3 separate regions of the Homo sapiens genome follow, and all the other regions are reported to be linked to region 2. Evidence: microRNA targets listed by miRTarBase, many of them from high-throughput screens and not tested one by one. Region 2 holds a microRNA gene; each other region holds the end of a gene's coding sequence.

What was found. The annotated mature microRNA hsa-miR-4782-5p reads UUCUGGAUAUGAAGACAAUCAA and lies in region 2 at 2,977-2,998, opposite strand. An mRNA with a match to its seed (bases 2 to 7 or 8) in the 3' UTR can be bound and repressed. Matches are read on the target gene's strand: a 7mer-m8 pairs with bases 2 to 8, a 7mer-A1 pairs with bases 2 to 7 and ends in A, and an 8mer does both.
Region 1: miRTarBase lists CCND1 as a target of hsa-miR-4782-5p. Seed matches in the 3' UTR shown: 7mer-A1 at 3,256-3,262.
Region 3: miRTarBase lists MYRF as a target of hsa-miR-4782-5p. Seed matches in the 3' UTR shown: 7mer-A1 at 2,390-2,396.

What each region holds. Positions count from the first base shown.
Region 1 is chr11:69,650,880-69,654,879 of GRCh38, forward strand. CCND1 (cyclin D1) reads left to right here. Exons shown (of 5, transcript NM_053056.3): 5 at 239-3,595. The coding sequence ends at 403. Among named protein-coding and RNA genes, the nearest start is that of CCND1, 12 kb to the left of the region's middle.
Region 2 is chr2:113,718,362-113,722,680 of GRCh38, forward strand. MIR4782 (microRNA 4782) reads right to left here and starts at 3,007; the gene lies at 2,929-3,007. It overlaps SLC35F5 (solute carrier family 35 member F5), which reads right to left. Exons shown (of 16, transcript NM_025181.5): 14 at 793-947.
Region 3 is chr11:61,785,823-61,789,822 of GRCh38, reverse strand. MYRF (myelin regulatory factor) reads right to left here. Exons shown (of 27, transcript NM_001127392.3): 26 at 3,949-4,000; 27 at 1,305-3,760. The coding sequence ends at 3,680. TMEM258 (transmembrane protein 258) reads left to right here. Exons shown (of 4, transcript NM_014206.4): 3 at 1-38; 4 at 588-874. The coding sequence ends at 28. Among named protein-coding and RNA genes, the nearest start is that of MIR611, 4.7 kb to the left of the region's middle. RefSeq lists enhancers at 3,248-3,992, 3,993-4,000.

The sequences.
Region 1 (4,000 bases), not on the chromosome of region 2:
TGTGGCTCCAGAGACCAGGTGGGAGGTGGAGGCATTTGGTCCTGAGTGTCCTGACAGGTGATGGCAGCTCCCACATCTCGCTCAGGTTCAGAGGAGGCAGCATGGGCCGAGGGACAGTTTTTGGCTTAGTCTTGCTCTTATAAAGGCTTCCGGGTCATGGCACCTGGGAAGGGGCCCTCGCTGCAGGCCCCTTCTAAGGACCCCCTCTTCCCACCTCTCCCCACCCTCTCTCTCTCAGGACTGCCTCCGGGCCTGCCAGGAGCAGATCGAAGCCCTGCTGGAGTCAAGCCTGCGCCAGGCCCAGCAGAACATGGACCCCAAGGCCGCCGAGGAGGAGGAAGAGGAGGAGGAGGAGGTGGACCTGGCTTGCACACCCACCGACGTGCGGGACGTGGACATCTGAGGGCGCCAGGCAGGCGGGCGCCACCGCCACCCGCAGCGAGGGCGGAGCCGGCCCCAGGTGCTCCCCTGACAGTCCCTCCTCTCCGGAGCATTTTGATACCAGAAGGGAAAGCTTCATTCTCCTTGTTGTTGGTTGTTTTTTCCTTTGCTCTTTCCCCCTTCCATCTCTGACTTAAGCAAAAGAAAAAGATTACCCAAAAACTGTCTTTAAAAGAGAGAGAGAGAAAAAAAAAATAGTATTTGCATAACCCTGAGCGGTGGGGGAGGAGGGTTGTGCTACAGATGATAGAGGATTTTATACCCCAATAATCAACTCGTTTTTATATTAATGTACTTGTTTCTCTGTTGTAAGAATAGGCATTAACACAAAGGAGGCGTCTCGGGAGAGGATTAGGTTCCATCCTTTACGTGTTTAAAAAAAAGCATAAAAACATTTTAAAAACATAGAAAAATTCAGCAAACCATTTTTAAAGTAGAAGAGGGTTTTAGGTAGAAAAACATATTCTTGTGCTTTTCCTGATAAAGCACAGCTGTAGTGGGGTTCTAGGCATCTCTGTACTTTGCTTGCTCATATGCATGTAGTCACTTTATAAGTCATTGTATGTTATTATATTCCGTAGGTAGATGTGTAACCTCTTCACCTTATTCATGGCTGAAGTCACCTCTTGGTTACAGTAGCGTAGCGTGCCCGTGTGCATGTCCTTTGCGCCTGTGACCACCACCCCAACAAACCATCCAGTGACAAACCATCCAGTGGAGGTTTGTCGGGCACCAGCCAGCGTAGCAGGGTCGGGAAAGGCCACCTGTCCCACTCCTACGATACGCTACTATAAAGAGAAGACGAAATAGTGACATAATATATTCTATTTTTATACTCTTCCTATTTTTGTAGTGACCTGTTTATGAGATGCTGGTTTTCTACCCAACGGCCCTGCAGCCAGCTCACGTCCAGGTTCAACCCACAGCTACTTGGTTTGTGTTCTTCTTCATATTCTAAAACCATTCCATTTCCAAGCACTTTCAGTCCAATAGGTGTAGGAAATAGCGCTGTTTTTGTTGTGTGTGCAGGGAGGGCAGTTTTCTAATGGAATGGTTTGGGAATATCCATGTACTTGTTTGCAAGCAGGACTTTGAGGCAAGTGTGGGCCACTGTGGTGGCAGTGGAGGTGGGGTGTTTGGGAGGCTGCGTGCCAGTCAAGAAGAAAAAGGTTTGCATTCTCACATTGCCAGGATGATAAGTTCCTTTCCTTTTCTTTAAAGAAGTTGAAGTTTAGGAATCCTTTGGTGCCAACTGGTGTTTGAAAGTAGGGACCTCAGAGGTTTACCTAGAGAACAGGTGGTTTTTAAGGGTTATCTTAGATGTTTCACACCGGAAGGTTTTTAAACACTAAAATATATAATTTATAGTTAAGGCTAAAAAGTATATTTATTGCAGAGGATGTTCATAAGGCCAGTATGATTTATAAATGCAATCTCCCCTTGATTTAAACACACAGATACACACACACACACACACACACACAAACCTTCTGCCTTTGATGTTACAGATTTAATACAGTTTATTTTTAAAGATAGATCCTTTTATAGGTGAGAAAAAAACAATCTGGAAGAAAAAAACCACACAAAGACATTGATTCAGCCTGTTTGGCGTTTCCCAGAGTCATCTGATTGGACAGGCATGGGTGCAAGGAAAATTAGGGTACTCAACCTAAGTTCGGTTCCGATGAATTCTTATCCCCTGCCCCTTCCTTTAAAAAACTTAGTGACAAAATAGACAATTTGCACATCTTGGCTATGTAATTCTTGTAATTTTTATTTAGGAAGTGTTGAAGGGAGGTGGCAAGAGTGTGGAGGCTGACGTGTGAGGGAGGACAGGCGGGAGGAGGTGTGAGGAGGAGGCTCCCGAGGGGAAGGGGCGGTGCCCACACCGGGGACAGGCCGCAGCTCCATTTTCTTATTGCGCTGCTACCGTTGACTTCCAGGCACGGTTTGGAAATATTCACATCGCTTCTGTGTATCTCTTTCACATTGTTTGCTGCTATTGGAGGATCAGTTTTTTGTTTTACAATGTCATATACTGCCATGTACTAGTTTTAGTTTTCTCTTAGAACATTGTATTACAGATGCCTTTTTTGTAGTTTTTTTTTTTTTTATGTGATCAATTTTGACTTAATGTGATTACTGCTCTATTCCAAAAAGGTTGCTGTTTCACAATACCTCATGCTTCACTTAGCCATGGTGGACCCAGCGGGCAGGTTCTGCCTGCTTTGGCGGGCAGACACGCGGGCGCGATCCCACACAGGCTGGCGGGGGCCGGCCCCGAGGCCGCGTGCGTGAGAACCGCGCCGGTGTCCCCAGAGACCAGGCTGTGTCCCTCTTCTCTTCCCTGCGCCTGTGATGCTGGGCACTTCATCTGATCGGGGGCGTAGCATCATAGTAGTTTTTACAGCTGTGTTATTCTTTGCGTGTAGCTATGGAAGTTGCATAATTATTATTATTATTATTATAACAAGTGTGTCTTACGTGCCACCACGGCGTTGTACCTGTAGGACTCTCATTCGGGATGATTGGAATAGCTTCTGGAATTTGTTCAAGTTTTGGGTATGTTTAATCTGTTATGTACTAGTGTTCTGTTTGTTATTGTTTTGTTAATTACACCATAATGCTAATTTAAAGAGACTCCAAATCTCAATGAAGCCAGCTCACAGTGCTGTGTGCCCCGGTCACCTAGCAAGCTGCCGAACCAAAAGAATTTGCACCCCGCTGCGGGCCCACGTGGTTGGGGCCCTGCCCTGGCAGGGTCATCCTGTGCTCGGAGGCCATCTCGGGCACAGGCCCACCCCGCCCCACCCCTCCAGAACACGGCTCACGCTTACCTCAACCATCCTGGCTGCGGCGTCTGTCTGAACCACGCGGGGGCCTTGAGGGACGCTTTGTCTGTCGTGATGGGGCAAGGGCACAAGTCCTGGATGTTGTGTGTATCGAGAGGCCAAAGGCTGGTGGCAAGTGCACGGGGCACAGCGGAGTCTGTCCTGTGACGCGCAAGTCTGAGGGTCTGGGCGGCGGGCGGCTGGGTCTGTGCATTTCTGGTTGCACCGCGGCGCTTCCCAGCACCAACATGTAACCGGCATGTTTCCAGCAGAAGACAAAAAGACAAACATGAAAGTCTAGAAATAAAACTGGTAAAACCCCAGCGTGGTGCCTGCCTCTTTGCTTCCTGGGCTGGCCGTGAGCCAGGGACGCGTGTCCTGGTGCCCTAGAACCAGGGCAGGGTGGCAGGCTTGGCGGATGTGGGAGGCCGCAGCCTGTCCTGTGCGCTGTGGGAAGTTCAGCAGCATCCTGACCTCCATCCCCGGGATGACAGTCACGCCACCCGCCGTGACAACCAAGAATGTCTCCTGACACTGCCACATCCCCGGGGGTGGGGACAGAATCCAGCCAGGAGCAGGCACACCCCTCCCAACTGGGAGGAAGCCCTCAGCACAGGTGTGTGAGGTGGGAGGCGGTGTCCTGTCCCCGGGAGGCTCCAGAGAATAATTTGCAGGCTGCCTGGCTGGGTGAGCCCACCTCCAACCACGCGAGACAACAGCTCCGGCCT
Region 2 (4,319 bases):
AAGTTCTTTTTATAGCAAAATGTAAAAAGCTTTCATTCTTAAAAAGAAAGAAATTGGAAAGAAAAACTGAGGCAATACTATTCTATCATGAATTATGTTCAAACCAATAAAAGTTTTCTATATTTAAGTTTGTTATGGCAAAACAGTAAACCTTTTGGTATTACCTGTGAATCATATTTTTTTTAAAAAAATGTAGTTACTAGGCAGGCAAATCACTTGTGGTTGGGAATTCAAGGCCAGCCTGGCCAACACGGTGAAACCTGCCTCTACTGAAAATACAAAAATTAGCTGGGCATGGTGGTGCATGCCTGTAATCCCAGCTACTCAGGAGGCTGAGGCAGGAGAATCACTTGAACCCAGGAGGCAGAGGTTGCAGTGAGCTGAGATCGTGCCATTGCACTCCAGGCTGGGCTACAGAGCAAGACTCTGTCAAGAAAGAGAAAAAAAGAAGAAAGAGAAGAAAGAAAGAGGGAAAGAAAAGGAAAGAAAAAGAGAGAGAAAGAAAAAGAAAGAAAGAAAGAAAGAAAGAAAGAAAGAAAGAAAGAAAGAAAGAAAGAAAGAAAGAAAAAGAAAGGAAGAAAGGAAGGAAGGAAGAAAGAAAGAAAGAAAGGAGAAAGAATCTTATTACCCAAAAGATCTAAACCAATTATTTTATTTTCATCTGCCGTAACATATAAGTTATCATCTTTCAATAATTCCTCACAAAATCTCTAAAAGCTAGGCCAGCATGATGCAATTCTCAGTTATCTAGCAAACACTATTTTTAAAAATGTGTATTGGGACTAAACTTACCTCTGAATTCGATGTTTTCTGCATATAAAAGCAAATATTCTTCTGATTCCCACCATCACAGGATCCCAATTATTATAATGGCATAGGAGAGTTACAATAAAAAATGAAAAAAATACAGGGATAGCTCCTGCAAAAAATAACCAAGAAAACTGCACCTAAAAATAAAAGATAGAGGAAAAAACACACCCACAATTATCATTAAGGCAATTTTCCCCTTCAATGTAAGTTTTCTATTTGTGAAAACTAGCAGGAATAAGAACAATGGGAAGACAAAATTAAACACTGACAATGTATTAAGTGTATTATTATTAAATAAGAATTCAAGACTTCAACTTACTATTCCATGCACCTAAATTACCAACAACAATAGTTCTTGCTTGGAAAATAGGCTAAAGGAAAGCCAAGAAAGCATACTTTCCATTTATAGGCATTGTACACTTAGAGTAGAGATATACAGTAGGAAACTTTGCTCCTGCACACCATGTTGCTCATTTCTTCTTCACTGTTTGCTGCCTAGTCTCAAGTGGGTCTCTCTCCCTCAGTTTCTGAAGTCATCTTCAAAAAATGTATATTTTCGTAAAAAGTTACAGTTGTAGTATGCTGTGTATGCTACAGTCCTTATGACAGTACCAAAAACAAATTAAGTGCAAATTTGACACTCAAAACTCGCTTATCTAGTAATAAATGAAAAAAGCTCAAAATGAAATAATGACCAAATAAAATAAAGAAAAAAATATAGAAATATTTTTACTAAGGAATGTTAGCCAGAGAAGACAAGCAACAAGACAAGCCTCATCAGTGATGTCAACAAGTCTGATCCTCCAATCCATCATTTATCAGAGTTGTCAAGAAAATAAAAAATATCTGTAAGTAGGGTGGAGGTATTAAAATCAAAAAGAAAAAAAAATAAGAAAAACAAATATATAAATAAAAAGAAAATAAAAAATAATGAGATGCCATCCAAAACAAAACTCATTCTTCCCTTTCACTAGTTCACTTTTACCATCTAGACTCAGCTAAAGATCAGAAACGATTGTCAAAGAAGCCTACACTGATCAACCACTGAGACTTAAGTGTAACACACAGGAGGTTTGCTTTAAAAATAATGATGAAAATAGTAACTTCTATCTATAAAATAGGAAAGGAAAACTGTGTTTGCCCTCTTTGAGAATTAAAAAAAAAAAAAAAAGGGCATGGAATCATAGGTAAGACTCCCTCTGGTGGAAAACATATACTATTCCATTTCATAGCACCATTAGTCAGAGTAAACGAGTTTTGTGAGCATAATGTCTTTTATGAGGGAACTCACAATGCATAACACAAGAATAATAACTGACAATTTTTAACATGCATGCCCTATTTCTATGGTATTCATATACAATGACTGAGTCAGCCTAAGAAGACCCCGGAAAGAATAGTCATTAAACTGAAAAGCCTTCATTTAGTTATGAAATTACCAATATATTTTAACATATTCCTGGAATATTTGCCAGAATGACTAATAATCAGGAAAAACCATGCTGCATTTAAATTATCCAAGATCAGAAAAGGTATTAAGAAGTTATAAATAATGCGATTAAAAATGTAGATATAGTTGATAGAATTATTTCATGAATATTCAACTAAAAACCTTATTTCATAACTGAATCAAAGCAAACTTAATAAAGATAGATAAAGCCCTAGAAGACTTTAGAAGGCAAGTTCACTTTCCACAATGTAGCTGTTTATATGTTGTCTCATAATAAAAAACTTCTAATTTGATTTCCAACAAGCTAAGACAAAAGAAACGAAGCCATTTATTACAACAAAGAAAATTACCTATGTAAACAAAATTTTTTTTTCTAATTCCTAAATATATCTGAATATCAAATAGAATATGATCAAGGATGCTTTCTATTATATAAAATGATTATAAATAGATTTAAATAACCAATTTGTTTCAAGCACAATGTTAATAAATGCTAACATTTCAGAAGCTATATATAAATACAGTTAGCTAATTAAACCTAAAAACCCTATAAAAGTAGATTTCTCTTATGTTTGTGTTACAGTTCTGGACACACACTGCTGCTTTTTCCAGATGGAATCTCCCTAACCTCAATCCTGACACCAACACACAGCCTGCTCCTTTAACTGACTGCCCAGTTCTAGATATGAAGACAATCAAGAACACCAAATCTTTTCTTGATTGTCTTCATATCCAGAACTGGGCAATCAGTTAAAGTTTGGTTATGTTTTTATAATTAATTGCATGTGCATACATTTCCCCGTTTTGTCTTTACCCTAAAATACTTTATTAAACAAATTATAACCATTATTGTTTGTAATGATAATTATGAAATGACTAATCATTTAATACAATTAGGTCCCCTGTGACTATTTTCTTAAAAATTCCTGAACATTAAGCTGCAATTTTTTTCAATCTACGAAAGCTTTTGTTTTTAAAATATCAGTACAATAAAGATGATTTACACAGTAGTCTACCAAAATCCTCTAACAAGTAGCACCTTCCCAGTTTCACAACCAGTTTGGTTCATATTCAGGATTATGACCTGAAGATGAAGAAGGGCCTAGATATTACTTAAATCTATAAAAGAATGATGTGTAATAATGTGCAATGTTAGTGTTATATGGAATATCCACATTCTTTGAAAATGCAAGTTATGTAAGATAATTAATTCTCAATTAAGGAAAGAATCTCAGTTCTTTAACCATGACAAATAAGAATTTACTGACCATAAAACAAAGTTAAATATCAGTAAAGAATTATTTTATAAATAAAGAGGATATAGAGCACTAAGCATATTTTGCTTTTATCTTTTTTTTTTTTTTTTTTTTTGAGATGGAGTCTTGTTCTGTTGCCCAGGCTGGAGCGCAGTGGCATGATCTTGGCTCACTGCAACCTCCGCCTCCCGGGTTCAAGTGATTCTCCTGCCTCAGCCTCCCAAGTAGCTGGGATTACAGGTGCACGCCATCACACCCAGCTAATTTTTGTATTTTTAGTAGAGACGGGGTTTCACCATGCTGGCCAGGCTGGTCTCGAACTCCTAACCTCAAGTGATCTGCCTGCCTCGGCCTCCCAAGTGCTGGGATTACAGGCGTGAGCCACTGTGCCTGGCTAAGACCTAGAGAAAAATAGGTTTAAAATTTTGATTATTGCTTGTACACATTATAAGCCTTTGGGCCTTGAAGTATTTCCCTCTTCAAATTATATTAGACTAAAACACACATACATACACACACACACACACACATACTTCTGTGACTTAGTAGTTGCAGTTAAAAGTTAAATGCCTACATATACTGAACTGTGTGATAAATGGCTATGCTCCATCTTTCAGTGCTGGGCAACAGCATACCTCTGTTCTTCCTGCTTCACCCAAGAGCACTGAATAAACTCTTCCCTTCTAGGCTGCTGGCAGAAACATCCCAGATTCTCTTTTCTGCGGTGTTAGCATTGCCAATATTTATCACAAGAATCCCCACATCCATACTAGGCCTTCAGAGAAAAGGGATGGGATACCCAC
Region 3 (4,000 bases), not on the chromosome of region 2:
GCTGCTCTGGGTTGGCATCTACGTGTGAGCACCCAAGGGTAAGAGCTGCAATGGGATGGATGCGTGAGCCTCCAAGGCACAGCCCAGGGAAGCCTCCCCAGAGTCAGGTCAGCAGGGTCCTTAAAGCTCTTACCAGCATGACCCCTTGGTTGATGGAGACAGACTCAGTGGAATGGGTAGGGACACTAGACATTTGTGCCTCTTTCCCTGCCCCTCATACGGATTTGAGCCAAATGTGACTCTCAGTTCTGAGCTCACATGGCCCAAGGCCTCGATCTGCCTTTGGGATGTACCACCTAGAAGTGTGGACGCAGGCATCCCATGGCTGTACATTTACATTCTTAGAAGTCAGACCCCAGTGACTTGGAGAGGCTGCTGGGAAGTCAGCTGGCTGAAAGGGGGTCAAGATCCAGGGCTTAAAACTTGCTGCAGACAATCCACCAAACAGGCCACTAGGAATCAGCTCTGGTGGCTCATCCTCAGAGGTGTGTGCTCAATAGCCCTTGCCCCAGGAGCACAGGGGTGCAGGGAGAGAAGGAGGAAAGAAGGGCCATTGGTCTTATTTTGATACCCCTCTCCTCTTTTAGGTAACAACCAGATGGCTTCACTGAAACCTGCTTTTGTAAATTACTTTTTTTTACTGTTGCTGGAAGTGTCCCACCTGCTGCTCATAATAAATGCAGATGTATAGCAGTCCTGTCTGGGGCCCATTCTGCAGGGGTGGTGGGTGCTGGGACCTACATTGCTTCCCCAATCTCTTCCCTTTCCCATTTCTCATCTGCCTTTCACAGTTCCTGCTGCTGATCTACTTAAGGGGGATGAGATTTGTGTAGCACCGGTGTTTTGTCATTGGAATTTAAGGCTTACCTGTGGATAGGGTCTGGGCCTACCCTTTTCTATTGTTTCTAGGACAAACTTCTCTGGGAACCCACATCGGTCCATTCTGCCCTAGGCCAGTCCCTGCCATAAACATAGCCACCATTCTCTGTGCTGGGGCATCCTCACCAGGCTCAGCTTCTCCCCCTAAGAAGGCTTTTCTCCTCAGTGGCTACTTTTAATGCAGGTGGGCAGCAGCGGGTGCGCAGGAGGGGAAGGTGTGGCCATGGGAGAGGCTGATGAGTCCACTCCTAGCCCCAATATGAAGCTAAGAGGATAAGGGGTATGAAGCATCCATTTGGCCCTCTGGTTCAGGCGCTCAGAGATTCCAGGCTTCTCAGGAAGAACTTTGAATTCCAATTGGCCCTAGCCTTATAGGTGACTCCTCTCCCACCAGACCAATCCCAAGAAGAGACAAGGAGGCAAGCTCAGATACAAAGCAGTATTTATACATTTATTTATATATGTATATTTACTTCAGAAGAAACGAACATTTCGGGGACAGGAAGCAAGCAGGCCCGGGGCTGCTTCCCTCACTGCCCACCTCAGAGTCAGAGTTGGCACATGACAAATACCAAGCTCAGGGAGAAGAACTGGGAGTTAACTGGGAAGTAGGGGGCGCTCTATGCACACGCAGGCTTCTAAGGGTGCACGGTATGGGCAGGAGGATTTGCACTGGGAGGCCCTATGTACAGCTTGAAGCTAGGGGGAGATTAGCCCAGTGACTACAGGAACAAACGCCAAAGGAGAGAGAAGAAGGGAGGGATGACCTGCTGGACCCCAGGGCAGGGACAGGGCCAAGACACTCACACCATTGCCAGCCGGGCAGCTGGCAGCTTCCAGCAGGTGGCCCACTTACCTTCCCTGAAGCCCTTTTACCACAGGCTTAAGGCAACTTTGGTCCAAGGTTGACCCCCTCAAGCAGCTTGGATCCCCAGCCTGTCCCCAACTCCTGCACTGAGGAACCCCTCCCCAGGCTTGGAAACAGAGCCAGCTGCTAACGGTTTTGGGGCTGTGCTGTGTCCAGATGGGCTCCATGGGGCAGTGGACGGTCACTTTCCAGTTAAGGACTGAGGGCCCGCAGTCCAAGAACATGAACCCCCATTGAGGAAGCCCAGGAATCCTATTACATGGAGTGGGGCTCGGCAGTTTTAAGGCATAGGGAGGATTCCCCCAGTGGGAGGGAGAACAAAGTCATCATAAGGAAGGCTCAGCCCCTGCATGGTTTGGGAATCGTAAAATTCCTATGTCAACGGAACCAAATTGGGGAGGGGGCTGGGAGCAAGCTATCCCTGCTATTCCTGCATCCCCCTGCTCTTCCCTATCCTGAGGACAAGTGCTTTGAGATCAATGGCAAAAGGGGGCCTGCAGTTCATAGGCTTCAAGGAAAGGCCTCCACTATAGAAAGGCCTCCCATTCAAAGCTGAGAATGAGTGGTGGGACAGGGGCAAGGCCTGCTTCCCAAAGAGGTGGCAGCATACCACAGGGCAAGGACAGCAATTCCCTTTCCCATTTCTGGACCCATGGCAGACATGGCTAAATGAATACTACACTCCTTCCATGAGCCTGGATGTAGCCTCGGAATGCACCAGGCACCACTAAGAAACTTGAAGGTGGCACTTAAGATACAACTTCTTCCCTAACCCAGGGTCTTGGTGGTTGGGAGTGGGATGGGTGTCGGAGGCTCCCTGGGAGGGATCAGAGTCAGAGCCCTGTCTTTGCAAGTGTCACACCCCTGCTCTGGCCCACTCTGAGCTTTCTAGCTCCATCCTTCCATTCCTTCCTGCCCTGGTTTAAGTGCATTTAGTAATTACTTCATTAATAACAGCAAAAGCTATTTGCATCTGCCCACCAGCCAAGACCAGGCTGCTGCTTGAGGGATTCCTGCTCCTCTGCTCAGAGAGAATGATGTGGTCACTGATCACTGTGAGCTCCAGACGCTCCCAGGAACGCAGGCAGTGAAGCTGCAATACCATCTGGGGGCTCAAAGGGAATTTCCTCTTCCTGGATATTCCTGGTTCAAGGCTCTAGGGCTTACCTGGCCCACTGGCCCCTACTGGTTCAGGCCTGTGAAGGGCTGAGGGTGGCTTCACCAGGCACTGAGTAGACTTAAGGCACAAAGTCAGTTTCTCCAACCCAGGCAGGGCTGGCCTCGGCTGCCCTGGGACTTCTTGGGAGCCAAGCCCTCCCAGGGAGAAGAAACCTCCTGGGCCACACTTAAAGCTTAGAAGTCCGAGTCTGGCGTAACAGGCAAACCCCAGAAAGTCCACTACCAAGCCATCCCCCAGGGAACAGCTTTAAGGGGGAGAGCCGTCTGCCCTCCATTGACTCATGGGGGTCCACCCAAGTCTCTTAGGGCTGGATCCGAGCCCCCTGCTGATCTCAAAGGTGGGCAGGTCCTCTCTCCAAAAGGGTTGGCTCCAGTCTCAAAAGGGGAGGCAAGGGAGAATGGGCTCTGAACAAATCAGGGCCACAGGCTTCCCCTTCCCTCCAGGGCACCTGAACCAGCCCTCCAACCACCATATCTGGAAAGAGGTAAACTGGTCCTGTCCTGGCCCCTAGGGGGTGGCAGGCAGGAAGGCCCAAGAAGTCTCTGGCTCTCAGGTTCCCTCTGTGCCGTGAGGGGCGACCAGCTGGAACAGCAACTCCAGTGTGAAGACTTCCAGTTTCACCAGTCTCGGGTAGGGCCAGTGAACAGCAGAGCTGGCCTGCAGCGGGCTCCAGTGTAACACCATTGCATCCAGTGTTGGGGGGTGCCTGGGCACCCCTGGTCCCTGGTGTGGTGCTGCCTCAGGAGGGCAGCTCAGTCACACAGGCGGTAGAAGTGGAAGTGGTAGTCTGTGGCTGGCTGGGCGAGAGCCTCTGAACTGCAGTTGGCCTGACCCTGGGTGGAAGGGCAGTGGGAAGGTGAGGTGGCTCTGGGGGTGCGGGGCAGATGGCACTCCCTGCTGACATTGCTTGACACTGTGCCCCCAGCCCTACCACATACTGTGCAAACCCCCCATTCCTCAAGCCCCACGTCGCAGACAGGGGTGCCCAGACCTCCAGGGTAGGTGGGATGCCCCTGCTCACCAGCAGTGCCACCCGGAAGTGGTAGGTGAATTCACGGAAGGACAGGATGGTT